5 separate regions of the Homo sapiens genome follow, and regions 1, 2, 3 and 5 are each linked to region 4. The links come from fine-mapping of genetic effects on gene expression. A gene starts in region 4. Each other region holds a variant in brackets. All regions are shown on one strand. Distances are between the middles of the regions.

The links.
Region 1: its variant is fine-mapped to the expression of MIS12 in whole blood (INTERVAL, PIP 0.92).
Region 2: its variant is fine-mapped to the expression of MIS12 in whole blood (INTERVAL, PIP above 0.99).
Region 3: its variant is fine-mapped to the expression of MIS12 in whole blood (TOPMed, PIP above 0.99).
Region 5: its variant is fine-mapped to the expression of MIS12 in whole blood (INTERVAL, PIP above 0.99).

The regions. Positions count from the first base shown.
Region 1 is chr17:5,436,493-5,442,879 of GRCh38, forward strand. It overlaps C1QBP (complement C1q binding protein), which reads right to left and starts at 2,663. Exons shown (of 6, transcript NM_001212.4): 1 at 2,350-2,663; 2 at 1,631-1,781. The coding sequence starts at 2,581. It overlaps DHX33 (DEAH-box helicase 33), which reads right to left. Exons shown (of 12, transcript NM_020162.4): 12 at 4,425-6,387. RefSeq lists silencers at 2,330-2,379, 2,490-2,659, 2,638-2,820 and an enhancer at 2,880-3,059. The variant A/ACTCT (reference allele first, on the strand shown) is at 3,086.
Region 2 is chr17:5,458,233-5,464,619 of GRCh38, forward strand. It overlaps DHX33 (DEAH-box helicase 33), which reads right to left. Exons shown (of 12, transcript NM_020162.4): 2 at 5,297-5,457; 3 at 4,087-4,314; 4 at 2,707-2,877. Among named protein-coding and RNA genes, the nearest start is that of DHX33, 7.6 kb to the right of the region's middle. The variant C/CT (reference allele first, on the strand shown) is at 3,704.
Region 3 is chr17:5,604,285-5,610,671 of GRCh38, forward strand. No RefSeq gene overlaps it. Among named protein-coding and RNA genes, the nearest start is that of NLRP1, 23 kb to the left of the region's middle. The variant G/T (reference allele first, on the strand shown) is at 2,664.
Region 4 is chr17:5,482,979-5,489,240 of GRCh38, forward strand. It overlaps MIS12 (MIS12 kinetochore complex component), which reads left to right and starts at 3,588. Exons shown (of 3, transcript NM_001258217.2): 1 at 3,588-3,706; 2 at 5,218-5,611; 3 at 5,845-6,262. The coding sequence starts at 5,885. It overlaps DERL2 (derlin 2), which reads right to left and starts at 3,200. Exons shown (of 7, transcript NM_016041.5): 1 at 3,091-3,200; 2 at 2,173-2,238. The coding sequence starts at 3,183. RefSeq lists enhancers at 2,858-3,037, 3,078-3,137, 3,758-3,857, 4,098-4,207 and silencers at 3,308-3,467, 3,417-3,584.
Region 5 is chr17:5,507,390-5,513,776 of GRCh38, forward strand. LOC101928044 (zinc finger CCHC domain-containing protein 9-like) reads right to left here and starts at 5,337. Exons shown (of 1, transcript XM_047437231.1): 1 at 4,563-5,337. The coding sequence starts at 5,238. The coding sequence ends at 4,651. It also overlaps a transcript of NLRP1 not described here. The variant CA/C (reference allele first, on the strand shown) is at 3,660.

The sequences.
Region 1 (6,387 bases), 46 kb before region 4:
AAGCACAAGTTGCACTTGGTGAATTAGAAGCAAAGTAAAAAATAAATAAAAAAGCACAAGCGACCAAAAAAATAGGTAAACTGAACTTCCTCAAAATTAAAAACTTTTGTGTCAGAGGACATTACCAAGAAAGTGAAAAGGAAACCCACAAGATGGGAAACAGTACTTACAAATCATTAATTTGATAAGATAGTTGTACCCAGAAAAACTTAACTTTTACAACCCAACAATTAAAAAGGTAAATAGGGTGGGCAGGGTGGCTCACACCTGAAATCCCAGCACTTTGGGAGGCCAAGGCGGGCGGATCACGAGGTCAGGACTTTGAGACCAGCCTGGCCAACACGGTGAAACCCTGTCTCTACTAAAAATACAAAAATTAACCGGACGCACGCCTGTAATCCCAGCTAAGGAGGCTGAGGCAGGAGAATTGTCAGAACCTGGGAGGCAGAGGTTGCAGTGAGCCAAGATCGCACCACTGCACTCCATCCTGGGTGACAGAGCAAGACTCCGTGGGGTTGGGGGGGGAAGCTACAAATTGTATGACTCCATTTATATGAAATGTCCAAAAGAGGCAATCCCATAGAGAAAGTAGCTTAGTGATTACCTGGGGTGGCTACAGGGAGGAATAATGAGTGACTGCTAATAGGTATTGTTTGGGGATGACAACAGTGTTCTAGAATTAGGTAGTGATAACTGATGCATAATTCTGCGAGGACTAAGAACCACTTAATTTAATAAACTTCAATAAATGGGTAAATCGTATGCCATCTCAATTAAATCTCATAAAAGCTGTGATTTAAAAAAATTACATACACATCATAAGGTCAATTATGAAGGAAATTCAATTTATTTATTTATTATTGAGATGGCGTCTTGCTCTGTTGCCCAGGCTGGAGCGCGGTGGCGCGATCTCGACTCACTGCAACCTCCACCTCCCAGGTTCAAGCGATTCCCCTGCCTCAGCCTCCCGAGTAGCTGGGACTACAGGCACGTGCCACCATACCCGGTTAATTTTTACTAGAGCCAGGGTTTTAGTGTTAGCCAGGATTTTCTCCTGACCTCATGATCTGCCCGTCCCAAAGTGCTGGGATTATGGGTGTGAGCCACCGCGCCCAGGCTCAATTTAAAAACCTGGAAGATGCCAAATGTTTATCTGTGTAATGAGATTATGGATGACTATAATGCAGAAAAGTGTAAACACTTTAACAGTTTAGGAGATGATGGGGGAGCTGACTTAGGTCACAAACTCCCCACCTCTGATGGCAGCCCTTACTACAGTGTAACCCCATCCTGTTACATAGAAGTTACATATTTTTCATTTTCACCCATACTAAACATTAGAGAGCAGTGTCCTATTTTATCAGGGCTGTAAATCAGAGATCAAACTGATTCTGCCAGTACTTTTTTGCACTACATTTTTGTCTCCTTAGTAACCAGCCCACAGCAAATTTGTGTTCGGTGAATGGACTGCCTGGGGCTTACGAAGTTGTCCAAATGAATCCTTCACTCTCTTGAAACCCATTTATCAAAGTATCCACACCTGAACTCAAGGCTCTTCTGGGGATGACCCAGGATGGGTCCTGCAAGGTTAAGGGAGTTGCTGCCCTGGGATCCCCAGACCAGTACTTACTTTTCCCCGGCAACTTTCCGCACTAATTTCGCTTCTGTCCCATTCAGTTCCAGCTCCCAACCTCCAGACATCTTAGGGAGGGTTTTATGCTTCTGAATTTTTCTTTCCTCCTTAATTTCATCACTCAGGAAATCAACAAAAGCTTTGTCTCCTAGAAAAGAAATCCAGATACATAAAAAGGAAAGCCAGTTAGTCTAAAACATAAAACTATTACCCAGGTTATTGCAGCCAGAAACCTGGACTGTTTCTAATCTCTCTGCTATTACGGTTACTCTAGAAGCCTGTTTCCTTATCGGTAAAAATACCATAATAGTAGTAGGAAGCTGAGCCTGATTCTGGAAAAGTGATTTCCAACAATGAACGCATTACCACTTTCCGCTATAAACCAGGAGAATTTCCAATCCTCTTCCACTTGCCAAACGATATAACTATGCTATTTTCAACCACGACCATGGGCCTTCCCAAAGGTCCACTTTCGATAGAATAAGACTAAGGAAAAAGGTACCCTAGTATTTAATTTTATTCACCCCCTACCAAAAGAAAACGAAACTGCTGGATAGGGGAGGTGGGGGAAATATGATCATACGTGGGTTTAGCCCGCTGGTTGCCAATCAATGGAAAAATGTCCCAGACCTCAGAGGTCGGTTGCAGGCCCTATTCCTGGTCTACGTTTTCCCTCTGTTGAACGCAAACCACACCCCCGGCCCGCTAAACCTCACCGTCGGTGTGCAGCGAGCCGCAGCCACAGCCACAGGCGCAGGGTCCGCGAGGCCGCAGGAGGCCCGGCCGCCGCTCGGAACCTGCGCGCACGCTGAGCAGCCCGAAGGGCCGGGTGCACAGCCGGGGTGCCGGCTGCAGGAGCTGCCGGAAAGGCGAGGCGGGCGCGGCAGCGCGGAGGCCGGCGACGGAGGAGCCCAGCACACGGGGCACGCAGCGCAGCAGAGGCAGCATCGCGGAAACGACTGCGAACACGTGCAGATGCAAAGGACAACCCAGGCCTAGGCGCCCCGCGACCTGAGGCGCCGCCGGAAGCCCCGCCCCTGCCCGGAAGCGCTTCCCGCGCCGGCGCTCTGACGACCTAAGGCCAGCGGGCGGAATCGCGCCCTCTGCTGGAGACTCCGGTGCAGCCCGGGAAGCCTCGAATCCGGATTCCGGAGCTTTCTTGCTGCGCTGCCGAGTCCGCTGTCCGAAGCTGTTTAATTCCCTCTAGTGGCCGCTTACCCACTTTCCACCTGCTGTTCTCAAAGCACGCAAGGCTTTTGGGCTGCGTGGAATGCACTCTTGTCTCCCGCCAGCTCTCACCAGACCCTTCCACGGTCACTTTCCTCTAGGAGGCTGTGGTGTTATGATATATATATGTATTGGTTTTCATCCACAGTTCCTGGGTCGTAACTCCTATAGCCCTTGTTACAATGTTCTGTGATAATGTTGGGTGTGTTAGGCCTCAGGAAACAG[A/ACTCT]CTCTCCCCTTCTCCTGCCCTCCTTTTACCTGCCCCAAAGCAGGACTCTAATCTCCTTCCACATTTCTGATTATGGGTCTTAAGTCCCTTCCCAGAGAAGGTCCCACCATATACCCTGGGGGAAGGGATGCTGATGTCCAGAAGCTTCCATAAAAACCCAAGAGGAGAGGGTTTGCAGAGCCTCTGACAGCTGAATACGTAGAGGTTCCTGGAGGGTGGTGGCCCAGGGTAGGCAAGGAACCTCGGAGCTTCTTCCCCATTCCCCACCCTGCTCATCTCATCTGTATCCTTGGTCATATCCTTTATATGAAACCGGTGAATGTGTTTCCCTGAGTTCTGTGAACTGCTCCAGTGAGTTAACATAATCCAAAGAGGGGGGTCGTGGGAACCCCAACTTGAAGCGGGTTGGTCGGAAGTTTCAGAGGCCCAGACTTGCCATTGCTGTCTGAAGGTGGGGGCGGTCTTGGGGACTGAGCCCTCAACCTATGGGATCTGACACTATCTCCAGGTAGATACTGTTGGGATTGAATTGGAGGACACCCAGCTGGTGTCTGCTGCTTAGTGTGGAGGGGAAAAACCCAAACCTTTGGCCACATAAGTCTTCTGTGTTGATTGTTGTGTTGTGAGAGCAAAGGAAAGTCTGAGGGTTTTCCTGAAAGAGGCCTTCTAGAACCTTTTTTTCCACCGGCTCGGAACTCATGCTTGTGCGCACCCAGCCCATATGCTTCATTCTCTTTTCAACAGGAACCTCCTAGCGTTGCTGCTTTAACCAGGTTAAACCCAACCAGACTGTGACATCCTCAAGGGCAGGATCCATGATTAATTTTTGTGACCTTCCCTCTCTGCACCTCCAACCTTGCATCCAAGTTCTAATGGAACATCATTTTTCTGGGGACAAGAAGCCAGCTTATATCATTTAGATAAGTCCAGAGGCTTCCATAAAAACCCGAGGACAGGGTTTGGAGAGCCTCTGATAGCTAAATACATGGAGGTTCCTGGAGGGTGGTGGTCCAGGGACGGCATGGAGGCTGGGAGCTTCTTCCCCATTCCCCACCCTGCTCATCTCCTTATCTGTATCCTTGGTCATATCTTTTGTATGAAACCGGTAAATGTGTTTCCCTGAGTTCTGTGAGTTTCTCCAGTAAATTAATATAACCCAAAGACAGGGTTCAGATTTATTAAAAATCAACAATCCTACCTTCCCAGGATATACAGGACATATAAGCTACTAAGAAGGTATGTCTTACTAACTCATGGTAAGACTAACACTTAATATTTTCTAAATAATTTTCTATGAATAATGGAAAAGAGATGCAAGAAACAAGCCACACACATCATATACAAGATTCATTTTTAATGGATTTGATCGTCGGGTGCAAATTTGAGCATTATTTACAAGAGCTTTCTGTAGAGTTATTTCTGTTCAAATAAAACCAGACTCTCAAAATACAACATAAGCCTGAACCTACTTGATTTTTTTTTCTCCCTCTAGTTACCAAGGAATATCGTATCTCAGATGCATGGCCTACTATCACACTGGTCTTTAAAGAAAAAAAAAAATGCATGGCCACAGTTCCAGGCAGTTCCTGGTAGCTGGATTTAGTGGATTTATATATGACAGTACAGTACATCATCAGTTTCACCCACAGGGCAGAACTTGCCTCCATTCAGGCATCTCTTTACAACTGGCAGCAATGCAGCATTAAGGGTTTTTAGCCAGGACCTGCTGTTTGCAGTCCTGCCCCTTGTAGTGTTACTCTGGGTGTTGCACACTCCATGATTACTAGAAGACAAACACCTGAGGCATGCAATCTGCTTGGAGTGCATCTATTTACATGAAGCTGCTCACGGGAGCTGGTGATTCTTCCAGATATGGGTTTCGTAGGTTGGCAAAGAGTTATCACACCATCAGAGATTTTACCAATGGAAAGAGAGTAGCTGAAGATTATATTGCAATGTTATTGTGAAACATTTAACTTTCTTAAGTTTAAAGTGTACTATCTCCTGCAGCTCAATATAAACAACGATGTATTTCTTTGTAGCAGTATGTGGAGTCAGAATGGGTTTTCCAATCTGATTTAATCCCTGAGCAGCTATGTTAAAAGTTAACTTTTTAAAAAAGCCCAATAAAAAACTAAATACTGTATTAAAACTCTACCACAATGTTACAGGGATAAACTTATTTCTGTACAGAAACATTAAAGCTACTTAGAAGCTGTTTACATCCTTTGCCTCTCAGAAAAAAAATATACATTTCCGGAAACTGTTCAGGTACTTAAGCTGGACATAAATTACCCCAAGTTTTTTCTTTTTCTTTCTTTCTTTCTTTTTTTTTCTGAGACCGTCTCACACTGTCGGCCAGGCTGGAATGCAGTGGCGTGATCTTGGCTCACTACAAACTCTGCCTCCCAAGTTCAAGCAATTCTTGTGCCTCAGCCTCCCCGGTAGCTGGGATTACAGGCGTGTGCCACCATGCCCAGCTAAGTTTTCTATTTTTAGTAGAGACGGGGTTTTGCCATGTTGGCCAGGCTGGTCTTGAACTTCTCAAGCAATCCACCCACCTCAGCCTCCCATCCCAATGCTGGGATTACAGGCATGAGGTGATCCGCCCGCCTTGGCCTCCCAAAGTGCTGGGATTACAGGTGTGAGCCACTGCGCCCGGCCACCCCCCAATTTTTTTTTTTTTTTTTTTTTTTTTACCAGCACTATGAATGATTAAAAATACAATATTTTTCTTACTAAGTAGGACTAAACATTCTAATCCCCTACTGGAAAACAAAAAACAAAAAACAAAAACTGGAAAACTTTTCAGAAAGTCAGCAGTGGTAACAAGTCAGTAAGTGGAAGAACTGGTTCAAAGTTTAAGAATTCAGTAAGATAAGGTATATAGGAGCTGTCAGATCTTCTTTTGCCCACGTATAACCATTTCTGACAGACAGCCCTAAACACTAGCTGAGAGCTTGACTGCACAGGACCACGGCTAGTGTTGGAAATAAAGACTGAGCCGGACTTGACATACACAACTCCGGACAGATGGGACCCTGGAATGGGGCTGCTCCATCAGGCCACAGCTTCCAGAAAGAGAGCATCCATGATCTCTGAAGAGCCTCTTGGGCAGCTTGGCCCCTGGTTATAACTATGATTCATTCATTAAGAAATGACAAAACACCCCACAGATGTATTTGGACCAAGTAAGCACAATAAAAGAGCTAAATCACGGCTTCTTCTAGGGCAAAATATTATCTGGGGAAAGATTACTTGCTTCTGATAATTAAATAGCTAAGAGGAACCGTTAGTGCCTT
Region 2 (6,387 bases), 25 kb before region 4:
TGGAACAGCAGCATAAAGGACTCTGAAAAGACAGACTGTGCTTGAACACAGAACTATACACGACTGGCATATGAGATGTTGGAATATTTGGGAGAAAATGAGCCAGAGCTACCCAGAAAGCTTGCACAACTGTGTTGTTCAAGAAACAAGGTACAGGGATGATGGTGTGCTACTAGCAATGTGTGGTCATAATATTCTTAGTATTGATACTGGACTCAGAAAACATCATAATAGGCCAGACACAGGTGTGCAAGCATGTAGTCCTAGCTACTCCCAATGCTGAGGTGGGAGGACTGATTGAGCCCGGGAGTTCACGACCAGCCTGGGCAACACAGCAAGATCCTGCCTCAAAAACAAAAACCTAAACAAAAACATGATAGAACTGTCAAGAGGTTGGAGATAAAGGGGGTTGGGGAGGGGCATTCTAAACTTTTGTCACCATGGTAAGAAATTAGCATATGATGCCTGATACCCATAACTCAAAAAATAGTGGTCAAAGCAAGGTAGTTTAGAAACATGAAAGCAATATGTAGAGATTGAAAGTAGGTGCCCTAAACAGCAGAAATCTGGGATGTTGAAGTAAAAACAACTGCTATTCTTTTATTATAAACCTTTTACTATAAACTACTTGACTTTTTAAAACTTTAAATCCCATATGCATCACTTATTTTAAAATAAAAATTGACTGGGCACGGTTTCTCACATCTGCAATCCCAGTGCTTTGGGAGGCTGAGTCGGGAAAATCACTTGAGGTCAGGAGTTTGAGACCAGTCCGGGCAACGTAGCAAGACCCTGTCTCTACAAAACATAAAAAAAAATTAGCCAGGTGTACTGGTGTGTGCCTGTAGTTCCAGCTACTCAGGAGGCAAAGGTAGGAGGACGGCTTGAGCCCAGGAGATCGAGGCTGTAGTAGCTGTGATTATGCCACTGCACTCCAGCCTGGGTGACAGAATGAGACCCCGTCTCTAAATAAGTAAATTAATTAAATAAAAAGTTATTTTAAAAGTTTGCCTCTGGATTTTCTCAGAAAGCTAATAGGAAGGTAAAAACATTAAATTTTATACAAATTAAACAAAAGTGACTTAATGATTCAAATTTTTGAAGTAAATGTTTAATAAAATGAGAAAATATTTTTAAATATTCTCCTAATATAGTTTAAAAAAAAAAGAAACTCTAAGTTGCAACCCATTATTGGGCTAATGTCAACTTTTTCTTTTTTTGAGATAGGATCTTGCTCTGTTTCCCGGGCTGGAGTGCGGTGATCATAGTTCACTGCAGCCTTAATCTTCCAGGCTTAAGTGATCCTCCTACCTCAGCATCCCAAGTAGCTGGGACTATAGGCATGCACCACCACACCTGGCTGATTGTTTGATTTTTAGTAGAGACAAGTCTTGCTATGTTGCCCGGGCTGGTCTCAAACTCCTGAGCTCAAGCAATCCTACCCACCTCTGCTTCCCAAAGTGCTAGGATTACAGGTGTGAGCTACTGTGCCCAGCCAACATTTTCTTTAAATGAGGCACAAAATATCAGAGTACCCTACATGTAGTAAAAGACACAGTACTTCTTCTTTAAAAAATAATTTTTATAATTTTTTTTATAGAGACAGGGTTTTGCTATGTTGTCAGACTGGTCTTGAACTCCTGGACTCAAGTGATCCTCCTGCCTTAGCCTCCCAAAGCGTTGGGATTACAGGTGTGAGCCACCATGCCTGGCCAGAAGCAGTGTTTCATAGACCTATTTCAGTTATATGTATAGCGTACGGGGTTGCAAAAGAAAAAGTACCTTTTTTTTTTTTTTTTTGAGACAGACCCTCGCCCTGTCACCCAGGCTGGAGTGCAGTGGCGCGATCTCGGCTCACTGCAAGCTCTGCCACCTGGGTTCGCGCCATTCTCTTGCCTCAGTCTCCCGAGTAGCTGGGACTACAGGCGCCCGCTACCACACCCGGCTAATTTTTTGTATTTTTAGTACAGACGAGGTTTCACCATGTTAGTCAGGAGGGTCTCGATCTCCTGACTTCATGATCCACCCGCCTCGGCCTCCCAAAGTGCTGGGATTACAGGCGTGAGCCACTGTGCCCAGCCAAAAGTACTTCTTAATGGCGGTTATAATCAAGGAAAGTTGGTAAGCTACTGCTTTAACATGAAAATTTTCTGGCTCAGTGTAAGAAAGCTGCTGGTCAGAACTGAATTATTTTTCTTTTCAATGAAAATTAGAGATATCATAAATAAAGGATAAAAATCCAGACACAGCAAATGAACTCCTTATTCATTGTTTTTTTTTTGTTTTTTTTTTCAGACGGAGTCTCCCTCTGTCACCTAGGCTGGAGTGCAGTGGTGCAATCTCGCCTCATTGCAACTTCCACCTCCCGGATTCAGGCGATTCTCCCACCTCAGCATCCCGAGTAGCTGGGATTACAGGCACCCGCCATCATGCCTGGCTAATTTTTGTATTTTTAGTAGAGATGGGGTTTCACCATGTTGGCCAGGCTGGTCTTGAACTCCTGACCTCAGGTGATCCACCTGCCTCGGCCTCCCAAAGTGCAGGGATTACAGGCGTGAGCCACCGCACCTGGCCTCCTTATTCATCTTGATGACACAACTCACAAAGTTGTTTTATTCAGTAGCTTTTCTTTTCAAGGCTCAATGTTCTCACTACCAACTGCAAGATAAAAGAGAACTTTTCAGGAATTTGCCCCCAGCACCATACCTGGTGGATCTGGAAGACGGAGACAAGCGCGGCGTGCAGGTAATCATTCTGAGGCTGTTTGGTGTAAAACACCTGGATCGGATGCTGCCGACCCTCTAGGTAGAGGACGGGGGCGCCATTGAAATACTGAGAGAACAGGTCCACATCCATCGTAGCTGACATCACAATCACCTGCATAAGAGAACGAAGAGGAGGACCAGAAACAAATAGTGGGAAGGCCTTTCCGTGTCCCTCTCGAGCCCCAAAAGCAGATGATTGAGGCCTGTGCCACCCCCATCACAGTTTACTTTCTTCCAAGGCTCTGAGCAGAACAGGCAGAGGAAAACACCCTGCTAGAGCACACAGGTCTGTTTCCTTTCCTTTCCTTCTTTTTTTTTTTTTGAGATGGAGTTTCACCGGGCACGGTGGCTCACGTCTGTAATCCCAGCCCCAGCACTTTGGGAGGCCGAGGCAGGCGGATCACGAGGTCAGGAGATCGAGGCCATCCTGGCTAACACGGTGAAACCCCGTCTCTACTAAAAATACAAAAAATTAGCCAGGTGCGGTGGTGGGCGCCTGTAGTCCCAGCTACTTGGGAGGCTGAGGTAAGCAATGGCGTGAACCTGGGAGGCGGAGCTTGCAGTGAGCTGAGATCGCGTCACCACGCTGCAGCCTGGGTAACAGAGTGCAAAAAAAAAAAAAAATCAAGACGGAATTTCAGTCTTGTTCAAGTGACTCTCCTGCCTCAGCCTCCCTAGTAGCTGGAACGACAGGCATGTGCCACCATGCCTGGATCATTTTTTGTATTTTTAGTAGAGACGGGGTTTCACCACGTTGGCCAGGCTGGTCTCGATCTCCTGACCTCAGGTGATCCACCGGCCTCGGCCTCCCAAAGTGCTGGGATTACAGGCGTGAGCCACCGTGCCGGGCCAATTATCTGGATACTTTCAGATCATATTTCTGCCAACTCCCTGAAATACAAGTTGTCTATAAAGTTATGCTATTTAATGAACTTTCA[C/CT]TTTTTTTTTTTTTTTTTTTTTGAGACAGAGTCTCGCTCTGTCACCCAGGCTGGAGTGCAGTGGTGTGATCTCAGCTCACCGCAACCTCCGCCTCCTGGGTTCAGGCGATTCTCATGCCTCAGCCACCCAAGTAGCTGGGATTACAGATGTGTGCCACCACACCCAGCTAATTTTTATATTTTTAGTAGAGACGGGGTTTCACCACGTTGGCCAGGCTGGTCTCGAACTCCTGACCTCAGGTGATCCACCGGCCTTGGCCTCCCAAAGTGCTGGGATTACAGGCGTGAGCCACCGCGCCCAGCCAGGCCTGTTTCCTTCTGTGTGTTACGCATACTTTCAGGGGAAGTTTCCCTCATACTTTCAGGGGAAGTTTCCCTCATACTTTCAGAGGAAGTTTCCCGAGTTCCTTTCTCCTCTTCTGTGCAGCTTTCACCACTCCAAAGAGCACATCTGTGTGGATAGTCCGTTCGTGAGCTTCATCCAAAATGACACAGCTGTATTTCCGAAGCAAAGAGTCTGAAATTGCTTCACGCAGAAGCATGCCATCTGTCAGAAACTTGATCCTGGTGTCTTCTGAGGTGACATCATCAAAGCGCACTGTATAGCCAACCTGTGCAGGGAAACAATTTATTCAGTCACCAAACATTTCTTGAGCGCCCACTGTGTCCGGCACTAAGTTGGGCACTTGCACTACCACAGTGAACAAGACCAACACCAACGCTTCCCACTCCCTTGGGAAGCATGCAGTCTAGCTGCTGAGAGAGACAATGGTCAAGTTTACTTTAACCGCAATTAATGTAACTATTACAAGGAATATTTAAAATTAACCTTCTACCTCAAGCTATTTAATAGTTTCATGTGGGCCGGGTGTGGTGGCTCACACCTGTAATCCCAGCACTTTGGGAGGTTGGGGCAGGCAGATCACGAGGTCAGGAGTTTGAGACCAGCCTGACCAACATGCTGAAATCCCGTCTCTACTAAAAAATACAAAAATTAGCCACTGGGTGTGGTGGCACGTGTCTGTAATCCCAGCTACTCGGGAGGCTGAGGCAGGAGAATTGCTTGGTTGGAGGCGGAAGTTGCAGTGAGCCAAGATTGCGCCACTGCACCTCAGCCTGGGCGACCGAGCGAGACTATCTCCAAAAAAAAAAAAGTTTCATGTGAAGCTATGTACAGATATGAAAAGACGTCTAAGGTATTTTTAAGTGAAATGAGTACACACACACACAAATAAATCTGTCTTATATACAGTTCTGAGACTCATTCTCAATACTCACATATACACTGGCATAATGCTTACAATTTTTCTAGAATGATATATAGATAAGAGAGTTAAGAGAGGTTACTGAAGGCTTAAGATGTTCAAGGAAAGCAACTAATTTATCCAACCTGACGACAGATTTTGAAAGCAAAGCACATGGGACCAATAGAGCCCCTGATCTCTCAGGAGCTGGTAAAGAACTCTCGGAAGAATAGGCAAGAAAGCAGCTCACTATGTAAAAGGAGTCTTGTTTAGAAAAATAAAAGGCAGTGGGCATGGGGAGAGAGCTGTTGAGTCAAGAAGTACTAATAGTCAAGAAGGAACCAGGTACCAGCTTCCCAAGTTCAGTTCTCTTCTCATCTGAGACTCTAGTAGCAAGAGAGATGGCAGCTACTCGACGAGGCTGGGTCACAGCAATGATGCCCTGGCGGCTGATCCCTCCTTCATACAGGTACTGAGGGATCTGAGTTGTCTTCCCAGAGCCAGTTTCCCCTAGGAGAGAGGGGGAAAAAAAAAAAAGGCTCACTGAAATGCAAACTGGGGCTCGGCACCAGGGCTGGCACCTATAATCTCAGCACTTTGGGAGGCCGAGGTAGGAGGCTCTCTTGAGCCCAGGAGTTCAAAATCAGCCTGGGCAACATAGCAAGACCCCGTCTCAACAACAACAACAATTAGCCTGGTGTGGTTGCATGTGCCTGTAGTCCCAGCTACTAGGGAGGCTGAGACAGAAGGATCATGAGGCCCAGGAGTTCAAGGTTACAGTAAGCCATGATTGTGCCACTGCATGCCAGCCTGGGAGATAGTGTGAGACACTGTCTCAAAAAAAATAATAAAAATAAAAAAAGAAATGCAAATCGGCTGGGCACAGTGGCTCATGCCTGTAATCCTAGCACGTGGGGAGGCCAAGGGAGGAGGATCACTTGAGCCCAGGAGTTGCTCCTGGGCAACATAGGGAGATGCCGTCTCTACAAAAAATACAAACATTAGTTGGACGTGGTGGTGCACGCCTGTGGTCCCAGCTACTCTGAAGGCTGAGGTGGGCATATTGCTTGAGCCTGAGAGGTTGAGGCTGCAGTGAGCCATGATCACACCACTACACTCCAGCATGGGCAACGGAATGACACCCTGTCTTAGAAAAACAACAACAACAAAAAGCAAATTGACATAAATTTCACCAAACAAACAGCTCAAAGTCAGAAGTAAAAGATAAAATACCCTGTGTTGGTAAAGCCTCAGGAGAATGGGCATTCAGGTATGTATACTGCTGGTGAAATTAGCTGGTTAATTGGTATTGTTTCTCAGGTGGTCAAATTATGTTTTTTAAATCTTTAAAATGTTTATATCCCTTGACCCACAATTCTACTTGCAGAAATTGATTCTAACAAAATAAGTAAACATGTGTATAAAGATACAGCTTCAAAG
Region 3 (6,387 bases), 120 kb after region 4:
AGGGAAGCAACTGGGTCTCAAGAACTATTGGAACCAGGGATTTTAACGCCAACAGGTCTTTCACTGTATGTGTGTCTCTGTCCTTTTCTCTGTCCATATCTTGCTTCTTGGACATGTTTGTTTCATTTGCCGTTTCCATAATGAATCACTTTCTTCATGTGGCAGGACACAATGCAGTTCTGAGGTTTACTTCTTATAGCTTTAATCACCAAAGAGACTGACCTTCTGGGACACACATTTTAAAAATTCCCAGGGAAGAGATCCATTATCTCAGAGGGAGTGAGGTGCTCATTCCTTGACTAGGGCCCTCAATTTGTCACCAGGTAGGTTGGGGGAAGCGCTTGCAGAGTGAAGTTATTGTGGGAAGTGTATTCATTTAAGAGACATTCTTCATTTTATGATAGGAGATACAGCAATTGGGATGACTTTGGCTGCAAATAGGAGAAAACCTTACTCACACTGGTTTAAATAATAAGGAAATTTATTGGCTCATATAATGTGAAGCCCATGTGTACAATGGTCTTAGGTTAGCTTAATCCAAAGGCTCCAGTGTCCTTTTTTCTGCAATTCCCTCATCTGTACTCTCTTTTTGCTTAGTCTTTGTCTTCAGACTGCTTCCTTTTTGGAGGCAAAAAAGAGGTAGCAGTTTCTGGCTCCACATCCACACATAAAATCCAGAGGAAGAGAAATTGTCTGAAAGATTTTTCATAATAAAGGAAGCTTTATTCTCAGAATCTTCCAGCAAACCTCTCTGTGGTTTCATTGGCTTGAATTGGATCCCATGCCCTTTCCTGAACAAGTTGGTGGCTGGTGGATTTCGTGTGCTGACTGGCTCAATTCTATTCATCCCAGAGCCTGTGGCAAGGAGACTGGGATTATCCAGATTGGATTAGACTAATTAGAGGCCATCCAAAACACCTGAGTGCTGCACGGTAGGCATGGGTGTATCAGTTAGCTTTTTTTCGCTTCTTTTTGTTTTTTGAGATGGAGTCTTGCTCTGTTACCCAGGCTGGAGTGCAGTGGCATGATCTTGGCTTACTGCAACCCCCGCCTCTTGGGTTCAAGCGATTCTCCTGCCTCAGCCTCCCAAGTAGCTGGGATTATAGGTTCCTGCCACCACGTCTGGCTGATTTTTCTAATTTTAGTAGAGACAGGGTTTCACCATGTTGGCCAGGCTGGTCTTGAACTCCTAACCCCAGGTGATCCACCCACCTTGGCCTCCCAAAGTGCTAGGATTAAGGCATGAGCCACTGTGCCCGGCCTCAGTTAGCTTTTGTTGTGTAACAAACCACCTAAATTTTAGTTGCTTAAACTATCATTTGTTTATTACGTTCAGATTTTGTAGGTGAACAATTTGGGCTGTGTTTAGCAGGATGGTTCTTCTGTTGGGCCTAAATCTCTCCTGCATTTTTGGTCAGCTCATAGGTCAGCTCGGGTTGTGGGGTTTATGACATCTTTGCTGAGATGGCTGGGATGACTGGAGCCGCTCTTCCTCTGATTGTCTGAGGGTTCCAAGAGCCACAAGAGAGAACAAGCCCCAGGGCACAAACACTTTCCAAATATCTTCTTGCCACACATTGCTATTGTCCCATTGGCTGAAGCAAGTCACACAGCAAGTACTGAATCAGGTAAGGGGAAGATAAGGGGATGGAGAAAGGGCTGGGTGTGGTGGCTCACACCTGTAATCCCAGCACTTGGGGGGCCGAGGTGGGCAGATCACTTGAGGCCAGGAGTTTGAGACCAGACTGGGCAATACAGCAAAATCCCATCTCTAAAAAAAAAAAAAAATACAAAAACTAGCTGGGTGTGGTGGCAGGCACCTGTAGTCCTAGCTACCAAGGAGGCCGAGGTGGGAGGATCACCTGAGCCTGGGAGGTTGAGGCTGCAGTGAGCTGTGATTGTACCTGTGTATTCCAGTATGCGTGACAGAGTGAGACCCTGTCTCAAAAAAAAAAAAAAAAAAAAAGAAAGAGTGAACAAAGTTGGAGCCATAAACACAATAATCTACCCCAGTGAGGAGAGCTAACATTGGGAGAGAGCCACTGTTTCTACCCTAAGATGCAAATGGAAAGAGTGGTTCTAGAGAAGATGTGGAATGCAGAAGACTCTGATTCCAATACAACAGGAGCCACAGGGCACACTGTGTTGGAAGAAGTGTTTGGGCACAGTATATATCTGGAGAGGAGATGGCAGAGAGAGAAGTTTGCACTTAGGACCGAAAGTAAGGATGGAGGGAACAGTTCAACCTGGAAACAGTGCCAGGCTTTGGACTAGGAATGCTGCCTGCTCCATCTTATTTGGTCCCTACAGCTGCAGGTGAGAAAATGGGCTCAGAGAGGTTAAGCAACATGCCCAAGGTCAAGGTCACACAGTGAGAAAGTGCGGATTTAAGCCCAATTGTCTGTGGATCTCAGGTGTGAAGGAAACAGGATTTGGCTGACGATGGCAGTGAAGGAGGGGGAGGGGAATGGGGTAAAGGAGTGCTGAAGTGCAGAGATCTGTGGCCCCAGCTCACCCCAATGTTGAGCAGAGTGAGCCTGGACCAAGACGCCTCTTTGCCAGCATGGAGTTCTGGACTGCAAGCTCCTGGGGCATGGACCTCATTCCTGTTCTAGTCCTCCTGCCCACAGCATCTAGCAGAGTTCTGAGACTCGGCACTGAGG[G/T]GCACATCCCATGTGCCCGGTGGTTTACTGCCGCTGTCTCACTTAGCCCTCCTAACAGCACGGATGTGGCATATGCCACTATTATCCCCATTCTACACATGAGACAACCACGGCCTGGAGAACTAAGACACGTCTTTGTGTTTGCAGACTTAGTGAGTAGAGAAGCCAGGGCTTAAAGATGGGGCCGTGGAGCCCAAAGTTCATGCTCTGAAGTGCTGGCTAGGCTGCCTCAGGGAGGAAGCAGTGCACCAAAGGGAAGGGTGGCAGGAGGGGGAGAGCCTGGATATGGAAACCCTCACGGTGAGGGGTTTGACACGTCACCATTGAAAACATGTGAGGACTTATTACTACTCTCCAGGATTGGACTAAGTGTTTTCTTTTCTTTTTTTTTGAGACGGAGTTTTGCTCTTGTTGCCCAGACTGGAGTGTAATGGCGCGATCTCAGCTCACCGCAACCTCCGCCTCCTGGGTTCAAGTGATTCTCCTGCCTCAGCCTCTTCAGTAGCTGGGATTACAGGCATGCGCCACCATGCCCGGCTAATTTTGTATTTTTAGTGAAGATGGGGTTTCACCATGTTGGTCAGGCTGGTCTCGAACTCCTGACTTCAGGTGATCTGCCTGCCTCAGCCTCCCGAAGTGTTGGGATTACAGGCGTGAGCCACCGCACCTGGCCTGGATTAAGTGTTTTCTATATCTTATTTAATCCTCAAAAATTACGTGGGGGCTGGGCACTGTGGCTCAGCCCTGAAATCCTAGCACTTTGGGAGGCCAACACGGGAAGATCACTTGAGGCCAGGAGTTAGAGACCAGCCTGGGAAACATGGGGAGACCCCCTGTTTCTATAAAAGGTAGAGAAAATTAGCCAGGTATGGTGGCATGTGTCTGTGGTCCTGGCTACTCAGAAGGCTGAGGTTGGAATATTGCTTAAGCCTAGGAGTTTGAGGCTGCAGTGAAGTATGATCATGCCACTGCACTACAGTCTGGGTGAAAGAACAAGACCCTGTTTCAAGAAAAAAAAAAAGTACTTGAGGATACATATTACTTGTTTGCCCATTTGAGAGGTGAGAAAACTGAGGATCAGTGAGGTGAGCTCACTTGCCAAAAACCACACTACTACTAAGAAGAGGCAAAGCTGCAGGCAAATCTGGTCAGGGCTAACCTCAAAGCCCACGCTTAACCACTGCACCACCCAGCACTTTGCTATCCAACACTGAGTGCTTCAGCCTTGCACTATCCGGGCCCATGCTGGGTGCAAGACAAGGCTGCAAAGGCAGATATTTGTGGGATGTGCTGCAAGCTTTGATTACCCAGAAGACTCTTGGGAGAGGGAGGGTCAGACATTTTTGTTGCTTCTTACGATTGAATTTTTGGAACACTCTGGTGAGAGTTGAGTTGAGAATTTGGCACAGAGAGAGCACCCCAAAAATGATGGCTGTGCTGAACCAAATTGTGGCTCTTCCTGGAGTGTGACACTTCCAGCCAGAGGCCCTCAGGTATGCACAAGAGCAGCAATGCCCCAGACCTCCAAGGACTCAGGACCTAAAGTAGAGCGAGAAGCCCAGATACAGTCTCCCTACGGGAGGGGCACGGTGAGCTCCAGGCCTCCACATCTGGACAGAGAGCTCTCATCAGCTTGGACGAGCCAGATCAGGTCCCTCTGCACATGACGCCTTTCTCCTTTTCAAGCCATTCTATAAACTCCCAGTGCTGTGGCCAACCAAACAGGCAGGGCTGGAGCAAGAACCATGTCCTCCCTTCGAATCAAACATTTCCCACAAACCTTTTTCTCCCCAAAGTCACTAATAACAATCTTCATGCCCACAGCATCTGCTAACGATTTATTATTACACGGGTAGTATAACATTTTCATACCCACACCATTTTTCATCCTAGGTGGAGTTAATTGCAAATGACTCCCAAGCAAACAGCATTTCCTCCAGCAATCCATTGCGAACAATGGAGCTCCGATTCCCCCCACCAAATCCTGCCGCCTTGCCCCAGCTCCCATGACCTTCTCTCATTTATCACCATTGCTCTAAATGAGTCACACACACCAATAGAAAAGGCCCTGAAACTTTCAACTCAGTGGCTCCTTTCTGCTAAAAGCAGCTCTAAAAGCATGCGGACTTTCTTGAAAATTGAGTTCTAGTTTCTCATCAAATGGAAAAAGAACTTTTCCTTAGGGGCATCTCTCACCACCTATGTCCATATGACGTATGTGAAGTCGTGATGTCTTGGAGGTGGCTGAGGGGCTTTCAGGTTCATTTGGTTGGTGACAGAATGCTGCCAGGTGAGAGCAAGGCTGCAGAGAGCAGAGCTTTCCAAATTGCTGCATTTTCTACAACTCTAAGGTAATAAAACTGGAATAGGTAACAATTGATGTTTGTATAATTCTACTAAGTGTCAGAGACTCTTCTAAGTCCTATATGTATATTTTACATACATTTAACATATATATTAAACAGCCTCCTCATAACCATTCTGAGGTAATTACTATTAGTATTTCCACTTTACAGGTGAGGAAACTGAGGCACGGAGAGATAAGTGACTTGTGACTTGCCCAACATCACAGAGCTGGTAAGTGTTGGAGTCAAGATGCAAACCCAGGTGATCTCCATCCAGTATGAGCTCTCATCTGCTCTTCTCTCTGGCCTTTTTGTAGTGTGTTAACCTCTTTCCTTTCCTATGTTGACATAATCGTTTCAAAGACTATACAGAAAAGATGTCAAGTGAAGCAGTGTGAATGAAGACGGTGAGTTTTGTAGAGAGGGCTGACAGAGGGCTGCGCCTTTCATAGGGTTTTCTACTCCTACCAAGCAATAAGAAGAGCCCCCTCTCCCTCCACCCAGTGGAATCATTTCCCCCAGTTCTGTGTCTATGAGAGAGCAGAGGGAGAGGACATCCCTGGAACTGGAAGACCTGCATTTGAGGACCAGCGCCCTCTCTTTCCAGCTGTGTGGTGTGAAAGGAATACCAGCCCAGATTCTGGCATGGCCTTCCATTAACTAGCTGTGTGCTCTCAGCCATGCTGTTTCTTTCTCTGGACCTAAATTCCTGCATCTTCAGAAGAAGGGTGAGCTGGATGATAGCCAATGTTACATCTTGCTCTAAGTGAGGCAATTCTAGTTCAGGATACAACAATCATTTCATCTAATGAACCAACTTCAGATCATTTTAGTGGTGGCCACAAGGTGTACCTTCTGGAGATTAATTCCGAATTCAAGTTCAGGCTCAGAGGAAAAGGTGGCTTGATCTATTTGTGAGTCTACCACAGACTTTGGAGGGGGAAAAGTGAAAGTTACAACAGACATCTGACATTCTAGTTCCACTGTCCTCACTGTTTTATTTATTTATTTTTTGAGACAGGGTCTGGCTCTGTCGCCAAGGCTGGAGTGCAGTGGCACAATCTCAGCTTACTGCAACCGGGCTCAAGCAATCCTCCTGCCTCAGCCTCCCTAGTAGCTGGGACTACAGGTGCACACCACCACGCCTGGCTAATTTTTGTATTTTTCATAGAGACAAGGTCTCACTATGTTTCCCAGGCTAGTCTTGAACTCCTGGGCTCAAGAAATCCACCGCCCTCGGCCTCCCAAAATGCTGGAATTACAGGTGTGAGCCACTGCACTCAGCGTCCTCACTTTTTACATGAGGAAACCAAGCCCTAGAGAGGTTAAGTGACTTCCGTTAAGCCTCACGGTGAGGTAATGGTGGAGTTGGGATTAGA
Region 4 (6,262 bases):
TGGTTGAGAAGCCTTGGACAGAGTGATACTCTGTTCTGAAACAAAAACGGGGGCATATAATCTGATGTTAGATTTTTTTTGCTGCTTTTAGTTCAAAGTCTGAAAGACATCATTGGGACTGTGACATTTATAATAATAGGAAAGAAAATTTTAAATTGTGATCGTCGTATGGAGAAAGTTTGCTGGAAAGACTAGGTTAATCGGCAGAACAGAAAACAGTGCTTTCATATGTAGTATCATCATATAATAAATAGAACTGACATATCAGAGAAAAACTTCAGGGTCTAATATAAATTGCTGAGAAATGTTTACATTAGGCAGTCAGAAACATCTAAAAGAAAGGAAAATTCTTTTTTTTTAAACTAAAACTTAAAAAAAAAAAAAAAGAGATAGGTTCTCACTATGTTGTCCAGGCTGACTCAAACTCCTGGCCTCAGGGGATCATCCACCTCAGCCTCCCAAAGTGCTGGGATTACAGGCGTGAGCCACTGCACCCTGCCAAACACTTATTTTCTTGTTGGAAACCCTGATAGACCCTTCCCTACCCAACATCTCCACACCCACAGTAACCACTCTCAATTGTAGAGTGCTTAACGTTTTAAAATGTCTACTATCTCTTGTGATCCACAGACAAGCAAGCTACCCCCAATTCACAGATAGGAGACTAAAAGTTGACTGACTAGCTGAATACTAGTTATTCAGCTAAAAGTTGAACTTTTAAATGTCCTGACCAAGGACCCGCAGGAGTAGATGGAAACTCTGATGGCAAATCTAGAACTCCTAACTCCAAATGCACAGTGTCATCAAGAGTTTAACCCCAGGCAGAGTAAAGCCAAGTAGGAAGCAAGACTTACTTGGATGGAACTACAGCGCCATGTGAGTATTGTGCGAACACAGTGACAAGAGATGACAGGACTGCTTTACAGACCACTAAATTCTTGAGAATTGTTAACTATTAAAGTTGAAACAATTCAGTTCTACATATTAATTATCCAGATTTTAGAGTCCTCATCCTAGTGAGGAGACAAGCATACGCATAACTGCAAAGTAAAAGTGAGAGATGTTCTAAAACAAAGGAGGATGAGTACATAAAGGTTACACAAAAGCTGCGTTTTGAAAGGCAAGCTAGAGTTCAATGGATATAAAGTGAATGAAACACATTTGAGACAGACAGAACAGCATGTGTAGAGGCACAGTTATTGGCTTTTGGGTCTCTCCCCTACTCCAACTATGGTAAGATCATCCTGGAACAGAAAAATCCATCTCTCTTTTAGCATTTTATTTTGAGACAGGGTTTCGCTCTTGTCTCCCAGGCTGGAGTGCAATGGCACAATCTCGGCTCACTGCAACCTCCGCCTCCCGGGTTCAAGTGATTCTCCTGCCTCAGCCTCGCCAGTAGCTAGGATTACAGGCATGTGCCATCACGCCTGGCTAATTTTTGTATTTTTAGTAAGAGACAGGGCTTTACCATGTTGGCCAGGCTGGTCTTGAACTCCTGACCTCAGGTGATCTGCCTGCCTCAGCCTCCCAAAGTGCTGGGATTACAGGCGTGAGCCACTGTGCCCAGCCTCTTTTGGCATTTTAATCACTGGAAAGGACCATCTCCCATTGTAATCTAATAAACCACCATATAGCTTTAGATGTTTGGAATTTGGTTAGTATGATCTGATCCCTGGAAGACAGATCACAATTTAAAAGCACTAACAGAATTGAGTTTCTGGACCATGGTGATAACACCAAGGTGGTGGGTGTGCCTAGGTGCTGAATGGACAAAATAAGGCCATCCCTGTGAGACAACCCCTAAGCAGCTAGCTAGTCAGCCTCCTCTCATAGGACAACGTTAAGTCTAAACCAGTGATTTCCAAATACAGGAACTGGACACATCAAAACGATGCAGGGAACTTTAAAAATAAAACACAGATTTTAATTCCTACCCTTGCAAATTCTGATTTGGTACTTGTTGAGGAGCTTGAGAATCTCTTCAAAGTTCCCTAAGGGATTCTCAAGTCCAACCAGGCTGCAGAATCACTGCTTTATATCCTGACAAGGCAACTTATAATCAAAGGTCCCCACTGGGTTCTTTTTTAGGATAGTGTATAACAGGATTTGCTACTAAACAGTAAGAAAAAGAAGAAACTGAAGCATTAATCACTATTGTGATGAACCACTTACTTGAAAGTGTTTAAAGATTAATTCAGGATTGAAGTACAACTGAAAAGGTGTGATCAATTCCAACTGCTGAAATAGAAAAAGAGCTTCTTAAAGCAAATCAAGAAACAAAATTTCATCATTTACAACAAAGAATTAGTAGGTCTAGCAATTTCCAACTCTCGGTCACTTAGACGTGATTTCCTTTAAGCCTTTCTTCTTAGGCCAGAGGAAGAGGTTGGTAAAGAATTCTCTAGGATTGGTAGAATTCTTTGTATCCTCAATACCTAACACAAAAAAGTCTGTTTTATGTTGCAATAGTTGAGGCTGACATGAAGAAATGAGGCAGACAGGTGGTGATATTTTAGACACAGGACAAATAAAAACAGCTGCTATGAATCTACCCACCACATGGGCACCACCTGAAACAGCTGTATGAAACAACAAAACTCACTTGAAATAACGGAGACTGGAGACCCTGCCACCGTTAGGGCTGGGTACCTCCAGCTAGCCCCTTATTTAGATCCAGAGACCCTTTTTATTATAAGCCATTCCCCTCTCGACAGTTTCCAGCTTGCTTTCCCCATTCCTGTTTCTTCACTAAACGGACCTTCCTCTCACTAGTCACCATGGTACCACCTGGCCATTGGCAGAGCTCTCGGACACATTTCTTGGGTGGGAGGCTCCCGCAACCCTAACCCGCTATAGGTCCGGCGCTCATCTCTTAGAAACTGACCTGACCCCCCATGAAGCAGCACTCCCTTCTCGCGTCACTGGATAAGCATTCTTGGCGCCAACTCGAACCCCAGAGTAATCCCTGTACGCCTCCACCCATCCCCGGGACCAGCCCCTCTGGGCCTCCCCGAGGCCCAAACCCCAGTTTCCTGAAGACCCAGTCATATCCAGCCCAGATAATGAGAAGGTGGCACTGCAGCTGCTCACCACGGCGGCGGTGGTGAGGACGCAGGCAGTGGTGTAGGCGCGGCTGACCGGTGGGATCTGCAGGTACTCCAGCCGCAAGCTCTGGTACGCCATCTTCCCCACCGTCGCCTGCCCCACCCCCCACCCACCCCATTTCCCCTTCCGCCAGCAGGCCCCGGCGGCGGGGCGGGCCCAAAGGCCCCCCGCCCACTTTAGTTTTCCCGCGACTGCCCAATCAACGCCAAGCAACCGCAATCCGTAGAGACCTAAGGAACGCACATCCGCCAATCACGAGTTGCGTCGCCACCGCCCCCCCCCAGCGCCCCATCTCCCCACCCTCTCTTCTCCACCAGCCAACGTCCGGGAAAAACGAGTAAGTACAGGTTCCTTCTGCCAATCCCCGCCGGCCACAGCTAACTTTCCCGCCCGGCCCCTTTCTGTCATAATTGAGGTGTCCACAACCAGCCAATCAGGAACGCGAGAGTATCCCGCGTTTGCTTTCGCTCGCCGAGGCGCGTATCAGTCGGAATTTTGGGGAGCCAACCGCGCCGTCTGTCCCTGGCAAGCCAGCGGCGGTTTAAAGGAGGTGGCGGGAAGCCTGTGTGTGCTTCAAATCGTCACCCTCATGGTCGCTCCGGTAAGTGCTGCGGGGCAGCATTTTCTCTGAGGAGGAGCGGGGACGGGCGAGACTGGCATAAGCGTCTTCGCGAGGGAGCAAGGCGGCCTGTGGGTCGGCCTCACCCCGGCCTCCGACCTGAAGATCCCAGCATGCAGCGCGGGCGCGGGGCCCGACGGAAGCCGGGAGCCGGCCGGAAGCAGTTCCTGCGCTCTGGCTTCTGGGTCCTGTCCTGCGCGATCGCGGGGTCTTAGACAGCTCAACTCGCCGAGATGACCTGGGCACCTCTGCGTTGAATCGGCAAATACTGATCAAGCCGCATTTATTCTGCTCTCAGGAACTCTAAGTCTAGCAGAGAAGATGAGGCGGTAGAAGTTCATCAGTCAGTGCCCGAAGAGAGGTCCTAATGGGAATTCGAAGAAAGGAGTTAATCAAGGAAGTGTATTTTTTTGTTGTTGTTTGAGATGGCGCCCACCTGTAATCCCAGCTACTTGGGAGGCTGAGCTAAGAGGATCACTTGAACTTAGGAGGCAGAGGTTGTAGCGAGCCGAGATCATACCACTGTACTCCAGCCTGGGCGAAAGAGTGACACTTTGTCTCAAACAACAACAACAACAAGAAAATTAGCCAGGCATGGTGGCCTGCACCTGTTGTCCCGGCTACTTGGGAGACTGAGGTGGGAGGATTGCTTGGGCGCGGGAGGTTGAGGCTGCAGTGATCTGTGATCGTGCCACTGCATTCCAGCCTGGGCGACAGAGCGACAACATGTCTCAAAAGAAAAAAAGAAAAACAGAAAGAAATCCTACCTTACATATACAGCCAAACAGTTATAACCACTCCATATTTAACCATTACAAACGTAAATTTTTATTTTATTTTATTTTTTGAGACAGAGTCTCGCTCTGTTGCCCAGGCTGGGGTGCAGTGGCACAATCTCGGCTCACCGCAACCTTCGCCTCTCGGGTTCCAGTGATTCTCCTGCCTCAGCCTCCCGAGTAGCTGGGATTGCAAGTATCCACCATCACGCCTGGGTAATTTTTGTATTTCTAGGAGAGATAGGGTTTCGCCATGTTGGCCAGGCTGGTCTCGAACTCCTGACCTCAGGTGATTCGTCCATCCGGCCTCCTAAAGTGCTGAGATTACAGGCATGAGCTATCGTGCTCAGCCTACAAACATAAATTCTTAAGATTGGCTGCATCTTATCTTCCCATAAGATTTGACTGTACTGCTTATTGCAAATTATTTCATAAAGTGCGTCCTAAATTCACCTGATAATTGAAGTAGCAGTTTGTTTTAGCTAATTGCCTTTATCTGAAGGAATAATAAAATTTCTCTTATTTCTATGACAAGCAATATCATTTCATCTCAGAAAAAGATGCCTAGGTTGAATTCCCACAATGACAAGGAGATAGGGGTTTTATTTTCCTAGATGTTTATATTTGAGAGGAATTACTCGCAGACCCTTGAAAAAACATGTCAGGGTTATAAAGCTGACAAGGGACTTACTCATCTTCTAATTGGGTTTTTTTCAGATGGCTTGGCTGGAGGACAAGCAAATTGAGGACATTGGCAACGGAGTGATCAAAATGATAGATCATGAGGCCTAAAATGAATAAGGAAAGAAGAGAAGTGGCAGAGGCTGAGAACAGAAAGAGAGGGTGGAGGGGCTGTAAATCTTGAAGATTAGGGTATAATATGAGTATATGGGTAAGAATTGGAAGAATTGTGTAGGAGGCAGTAGTCAAAAAGTAGAAGCAGTTTGGAAGAGTAGTTACAAATATCAAGAGCCAGGTGGCTAAAAGGTGGAGCTATAGGTCATTGAAGCTCAAGAAACTGAGTCTCTAGGGCATTGGTTAAGTCATCTGTCTAGACTTCAAAGTTGTCTAGGATGATAATTCAGAAGACTGATCTGTGCCAAAGTCACAGGTAAGGGAAGTGAACAACGAGGAGGGGAAAAGGGAGGGTATAGGCTGATGGAAGGAGCCTCAGAGAGGCAAAGAGTTTATATCCTGTTGTGGGAGTGGCATCAGGTATAAAGGAACACAAACTCCTTATTTTTTATTGATTTGCTTCTTTGTTTGCTATCTGTAATGTGATTGGTTACTTCCTGCAGAAGATTTTTTTTTTCCAAATGAATTATTTCCTTTTTACATTTGCAGGTTTTTCACGACTGAAAACAACATAGCAAAATAAGCCAAGATGTCTGTGGATCCAATGACCTACGAGGCCCAGTTCTTTGGCTTCACGCCACAAACGTGCATGCTTCGGATCTACATTGCATTTCAAGACTACCTATTTGAAGTGATGCAGGCCGTTGAACAGGTTATTCTGAAGAAGCTGGATGGCATCCCAGACTGTGACATTAGCCCAGTGCAGATTCGCAAATGCACAGAGAAGTTTCTTTGCTTCATGAAAGGACATTTTGATAACCTTTTTAGCAAAATGGAGCAACTGTTTTTGCAGCTGATTTTACGTATTCCCTCAAACATCTTGCTTCCTGAAGATAAATGTAAGGAGACACCTTATAGTGAGGAAGATTTTCAGCATCTCCAGAAAGAAATTGAACAGTTACAGGAG
Region 5 (6,387 bases), 24 kb after region 4:
GCCATTAAAGAATCAAGAAATTCAGCCGGGCATGGTGGCTCAAGCCTGTAACTCCAACACTCTGGGAGGCCGAGGTGGGCAGATTGCTTGAGTCCAGGAGTTCCAGACGAGCCTGGGCAACATGGTGAAACCCTGCCTCTACTAAAACTACAAAAATTGGCTGGGTGTTGTGGCTCACGCCTGTAATCCCACTGGGAGGCCGAGGCGGGTAGATCACGAGGTCAGGAGATCGAGTCCATCCTGGCTAACACAGTGAAACCCCGTCTCTATTAAAGATACAAAAAATTATCCAGGCATGGTGGCACGTGCCTGTAGTCCCAGTTACTGGAAACTCAGGAGGCTGAGGCAGGAGAATCGCTTGAACTCGGGAGGCGGGGGTTGTAGTGAGCCGAGATTGCGCCACTGCACCCCAACCTGGGCAACAAAGCGAGACTCCGTCTCAAAAAAGAAAAAAATTAGCCAGCGGCCAGGCGCAGTGGCTCACACCTGTAATCCCAGCACTTCGGGAGGCTTAGGTGGGCGGATCACAAGGTCAGGAGTTCGAGACCAGCCTGGCCAACATGGTGAAACCCCATCTCTACTAAAAATACAAAAATTAGCCAGGCGTGGTGGCGCACGCCTGTAATCCTAGCTACTCAGGAGGCTGAGGCAGGAGAATTGCTTGAACCATGGAGGCGGAGGTTGCGGTGAGCTGACATCGTGTCATTGCACTCCAGCCTGGGGGACAGAGCGAGACTCGGTCTCAGAAAAAAAAAAAAATTAGCTGGGTATGGTGGTGTGCACCTGTAATCCCAGCTACTGAGATGGCTGAGGCAGGAGAATCACTTGAACCTAGGAGGCCGAGGTTGCAGTGAGCTGAGATTGCGCCACTGCACTCCAGCCTGGGTGACCGAACGAGACTCTGTCTCAAAAGAAAAATAAAAATTAAAATAAATTTGTTTTGTAGAGACAGAGTCTTGCTATGTTGCCTAGGCTGGCCTTGAACTCCTGGCCTCAAGTGATCCTCCTTCTTGGCTTCTTAAAGTGTGAGAATTACAGGCTTGAGCCACTGCACCCAGCATGAGGGAAGCTATTGCAAAATATAGAAAGTCATGAGACTATTTATGCCCTTTGATACTATCCCTTAGTATTGACTTCAAGACAGTGATCTAAAGGATAACGAAAAGCTCTCTGCAGAAAGACGTGTATTGCAGTACTGCTTATTGTGGCAAAAAATTGGAAGCAAACTCAATGTCAGAACAAGAGGAGAATAGTTAAGTAAATGATATATCTACTGCAAGGAGTCATGCAGGGGAAGATTATCCTGAAAACTCTTAAGTAGCTTGAGGGATGCTTGTGATGATCTAAATCAAAGTCAAAAAAACAAGGTTTAAAACCCCATGTACTAGGATGATAACAAGATGAAAATGTGTTCCTGCAGAGAAAGACTGGAATGGAAAGAGGAAAGACAGAATTTTTGTATTGTTTGGATAATGAGATCATGGGGTGACTTCTTTCTCATTTGACCAGAACTTGTGCACCATGGTTATATTAGTTTCTGTGCAACAAGGCCAAAAAAATCTAAGTAATGGACCCAGTGGCCATTTTCAGGATTAACAATACTCTGTGATGGTCTGATTCATGCCCACGCAGACAAAGGTCCTTACCTAACCGCCTAGATGGCCCCGCATTGCCTAGCAACTACCTGCTTAACAGCAGTTGCTAGGAAACCAAGAACACAGCAGGACTCCTGACCAATAGCACAGCGTCCATACTACTGCTAGACTTCCCTTCAAGTTCTCTCCAACAGTCATGCTCCTGTCTAGCCTTTCCTCTTCTTCTCCTATTCTCCTCCTTCTCATTCCTACCTGCCTGGGGCTAACCTGTGAGTAGCACTCAATGGGGTCCCCACAATCATACAACCTGACACAACACAGGTAATCACAGGTTCCAGAGGACCTTCTTCCTTCCCCTGCTTCCTTCTTGCTCCAGGACTGGGGCCTGGACCAGAGTGTGTGCATGGCTCAAAGTTTAAATCTGTAGTTATCCCACCATTGAGACAAGTATTGCTCATGGCCTCTATCGGATTCTAGCACCTGGCAAATCCTACTCCTTGGGAGAGTGACTCCTTCAGGAAAGGCATTAAGCTCAGCCCAGGGCTCCCACCATCCATCAGAGTGCCTGGTGGAAGCATTCCATGATTCTTCCGTTTTTCTGAGATGGAGTCTCACTCTTGTTGCCTACACTGGAGTACAATGGCGTGATCTCGGCTCACTGCATGAGCCAGCACGCCCAGCTCATTTTGTTTGTATTTTTAGTAGAGATGGGGTTTTGCTATGTTGGCCAGGCCGGTCTCAAACTCCTGACTTGAGGTGATTCATCCGTCTCAGCCTCCCAAAGTGTTGAGATTACAGGCGTGAGTCACCTCGCCCAGCCAAATCCATGATTCTTGAATGCATTCTTTGACAGGGGTCCCTGTTCCAAGTGGCCCACTTTAAAGAGAAAGAAAACTTCATGTAGGGTGGATTAGTCTGAACACAGTGATCCTGGAAGACTCCAATTTTCCACCATTGTTGAGAATGATCCCTGCTGCCCTGCACTTCTCATTCCCATCATCTCCATGTGCTGTTCAACCGTCACATCCATTCTGAGGAAGTTGCCATCTATCTCTATTCAAAAAGATCTTTCTTCTATTCTTCTTCTTCTTTTTTTTTTTTAAATAGAGACAGTGTCTCACTATGCTGCCCAGGCTGGTCTCAAACTCCTGGACTCAAGCAATTCATTGGCCTCAGCCTCCCAAAGTGCTAGGATTATAGGTAAGCACCCAGCCAATTATTTTTATTTAGAGACAGGATCTTGCTCTGTCTCCAGGGCTGGAGTGCAGTGGCATGATTATGGCTCACTGGAGCCTAGGCTCAAGGGACCCTTCTGCCTCAGCCTCCAGAGTATCTGGGAATACAGGCATGTACCACGATGCCCGGCTAATTAAAAAAACTGGTTTTTTTTTTTGAGATAGAGGCTCGCTCTGTTGCCCAGGCTGGAGGGCAATGGCGTGATCTCGGCTCACTGCAACCTGTGCCTCCCACGTACAAGCAATTCTGCTGCCTCAGCCTCCCGAGTAGCTGGGGTTACAGGCACCTGCCATCATGCCCAGCTAATTTTTGTATTTTTGTAGAGACAGAGTTTCACCATGTTGGCCAGGCTGGTCTTGAACTCTTAAACTCTTAACCTCAGGTGATCCGTCCGCCTTGACATCCCAAAGTGCTAGGATTACAGGCATGAGCCACTGCATCTGGCCAAAAAAATGAAAAAAAATTTTTTTTTTTAAGAGACGGGGTCTTGCTATGTTGCCCAGGCTGGTCTTGAACTCCTGGTCTCAAACTCCTGGTCTCAATAGATCTTCAGGCCTTCGCCTCTCAAAGTGCTGGGATTACAGACATGGGTGCGTATTTCGTATCTCCTTGCCACTAGAATATAAATTGCTTGAGAATAGATACTCTGGCCTCTGTTATCACTGGCACCTACAACAGCCTCAGGCTCAAAGAAGCTAAGATTTACTGTCTGCCTAGTGTTGTGTACCAGCTCGCCCAGAACAACTTCCCACTCATGAGCTCACCTAGTCAAACAACCGTTTGACGCAAGCTTTGCTATTCCCTTCTTACACATCTGAAAACCTGTTT[CA/C]AGATCACACATCTAATGGGTGGTAGAGCCAAGAATTTGATTCCCAGCTCACTGCCTGTCCCTCAGAATTCTAGCTGTTGCTATTAGAATCCAGATCCAGGCCGGGCACGGTGGCTCACACTTGTAATCCCAGCACTTTAGGAGGCCGAGGCGGGCGGATCACTTGATGCCAGGAGTTCGAGACCAGCCTGGCCAACATGGTGAAACCCCGTCTCTACTAAAAATACAAAAATTTATCCGGGTGTGGTGGTGGGCGCCTGTAATCCCAGCTACTCGGGAGGCTGAGGCAGGAGAATCGTTTGAACCCGGGAGGTGGAGGTTGCAGTGAGTGCAGTGAGCTGAGATTGCGCCACTGCACTCCAGCCTGGGCGACAGAGCGAGCCTCCGTCTAAAAAAAAAAAAGAGAATCTGGATCCAAAGCGGACATGCATGTGTGTCTCCCCCATCCCCACACACTTGTTTGTGTCTGGCCTTTCTCCTACTCCAAGACTGGCTCCACTTCGGGGCTCGCTGCCATGGAGACGACTCCAGATTTAGGAATACATTTCCTAGGCTTCCGGCAACTAACGTGAGGACTTGCTGGGATGAGGGACGGGGAGGTCTGCAGAAGGAGGCGGGGCATGCGGGGGTTGCGGGGCTTAGAGGGTTGGCGGAGCCCCTCCTCGCGTAGGTCCTTCCTTCTTTCCCTCCCTCCCTTTCTCTTTTCTTTTTCTTTCTCTTTCTCTTTCTTCTTTCTTTCTCTTTCCTTTCTCTCTTTCCTTCCTTCCTTCCTCTTTTTCTTCATTCCTTCCTCTTCCTCTTTCTCTTCCTTTTTCTTTCTCTCTCTTCTTTCTTCTTTCTCTCTGTTGAAAATTGTTTTTGACCACACCCAGATCATACTGATATTTACAGTATAGTCCTGGCTACAAGGGAGCCCAGCTGTAACTTGTGAAGTGGGCCTGGTTTAGAAAGTAACAATGAGGTGGTAACTAATGACAGTACTAGTTGTTATCAAAAATTAACACCTTTAGGTATTTTTGTTTTGGGTTTTTGTGGTTTTGGTGCATCCACAATGTCTTCATAGTCTGCACTTATTCCCTTTGCCCACAGACCAACTGTGGCCATTCGATCTGAATTCTCACTTTCAGGGCAATCTTTCTTTAAATGTTCCACAGAGCCATGAAGTTGGCAACCACTACCATCAGCATAGAGTCCTTTGGGATTATCAGGACAAGATCTAGACAGGTGCCCCATTTCTCCACAGACAAAACATTCTGCAAAAGGACATTCGCCAAGAGGCGGGTCTACTTTAGCCTTACACTTGGTTATTTCGTGATCTGTGGACCCACACTTGTAACATCTTCTAGTGCCCATATCTTGATTTTCAAGGGCGGCAGGGCAATCCGCAATTCCACGACCAGGTTTTCTACAATGGAAACACACCATTGCATTTTTCTTTGCCCCTTGTCTTTTAAATCTTCTTACTTCCCATTGACTGTCCTCTTGGAGGAAGGGTTGTGTGGAGAGTGGAGGTCTGCATGTGGTAAAGGAGATGGGTGGGTGGGGCGTGAAGGACCCGAAAGACAAGGCCAGTCTCATGGGTGTGTGACCTGTGCGGTCACACAGAGCCCTGAGCTCAGCAGGGCCTGGCGCTTGATTTCATGTTCTGTTGTCACCGTCTTGACATTCTTATCATTTTTGAACGAGGGGCCCTGTGTTTCCATTTTGCACTGGGTCCCACAACTGCTGGAGCTGGTCCTACAGGAGGGTGAAAATTAGCATATAATGAGCAGTGAGGACAACCAGGAGTCCCTTTCATTGCCATCTTGGCTTTGGTGGGCTTTGGCCAGCTTCTTTACCGCATCTTATCAGTGGAGTCTTTGTGACCTGCATCTTGTGAAGCCAGTCCTGCCCACCTCCTGTGTCACCCCCAGCTTAGAGATCTGCATACAGTAAAATTACTACTAGCTTTCTCCTGAGGCCCTGCAAGCTAAAGCTTATACCTTGTGATACAGGCGTGTCAGATTGCCACCACTTTCCTGCTTTATAACTAAAGATGCTTTTGAGTCTAATACCTGGATAGACTGTGTCCAGCATTAACCTTTTTTTCTTCTGTTCTCATAAAAATCTCTCTTATTAAAAATCTGTTTGGCTTTGTATTTCAGACAACAGAAGACTAGTTTTCCAGCCTATTCACTTAGATTCCAAATGGCATCTGATCTCTTATTTTTTTCTTTCTTATTTTTTTAAAGAGACAAAGTCTATGTTGCCCGGGCTAGTCTCAAAAGCCTGAGCTCAAGTGATCCTCCTGCCTTGGCCTCCCAAAGTGTTAAGATTACATGCATGAGCCACCATGCTTGGCTTTGATCTCTTCTTTAAAACTGGGCTTAAGTATTTTATGAATTATCACTAGGTGCTATTTGATTTTAAAAATATTTGTTATATTCATCAGGTGTTCGGACGGTTCAAGTTTATGTCTTCCAGGCTACAACAGTTTCAGAGAAAAATAATTAGTCCAGTGTTCCAGCCTGTGCCACTGCAGAAAAGATGGAGTCCCTATAAGTCATTCGATCAGGTACGAAGACATTTCTATGCCTCCAGAGCAGGTAGGGATGATGGCCCCTGTTCAGCATGAAGCAGTGACAGAAGATAGATCTCTGTCCTTCTACAACCTCTTAAGATTAAGGACGAGTATGTAATGTCTGAGGTGGGGATAAGATAGGAGGTTGGCAGGACTGGTTTCACAAA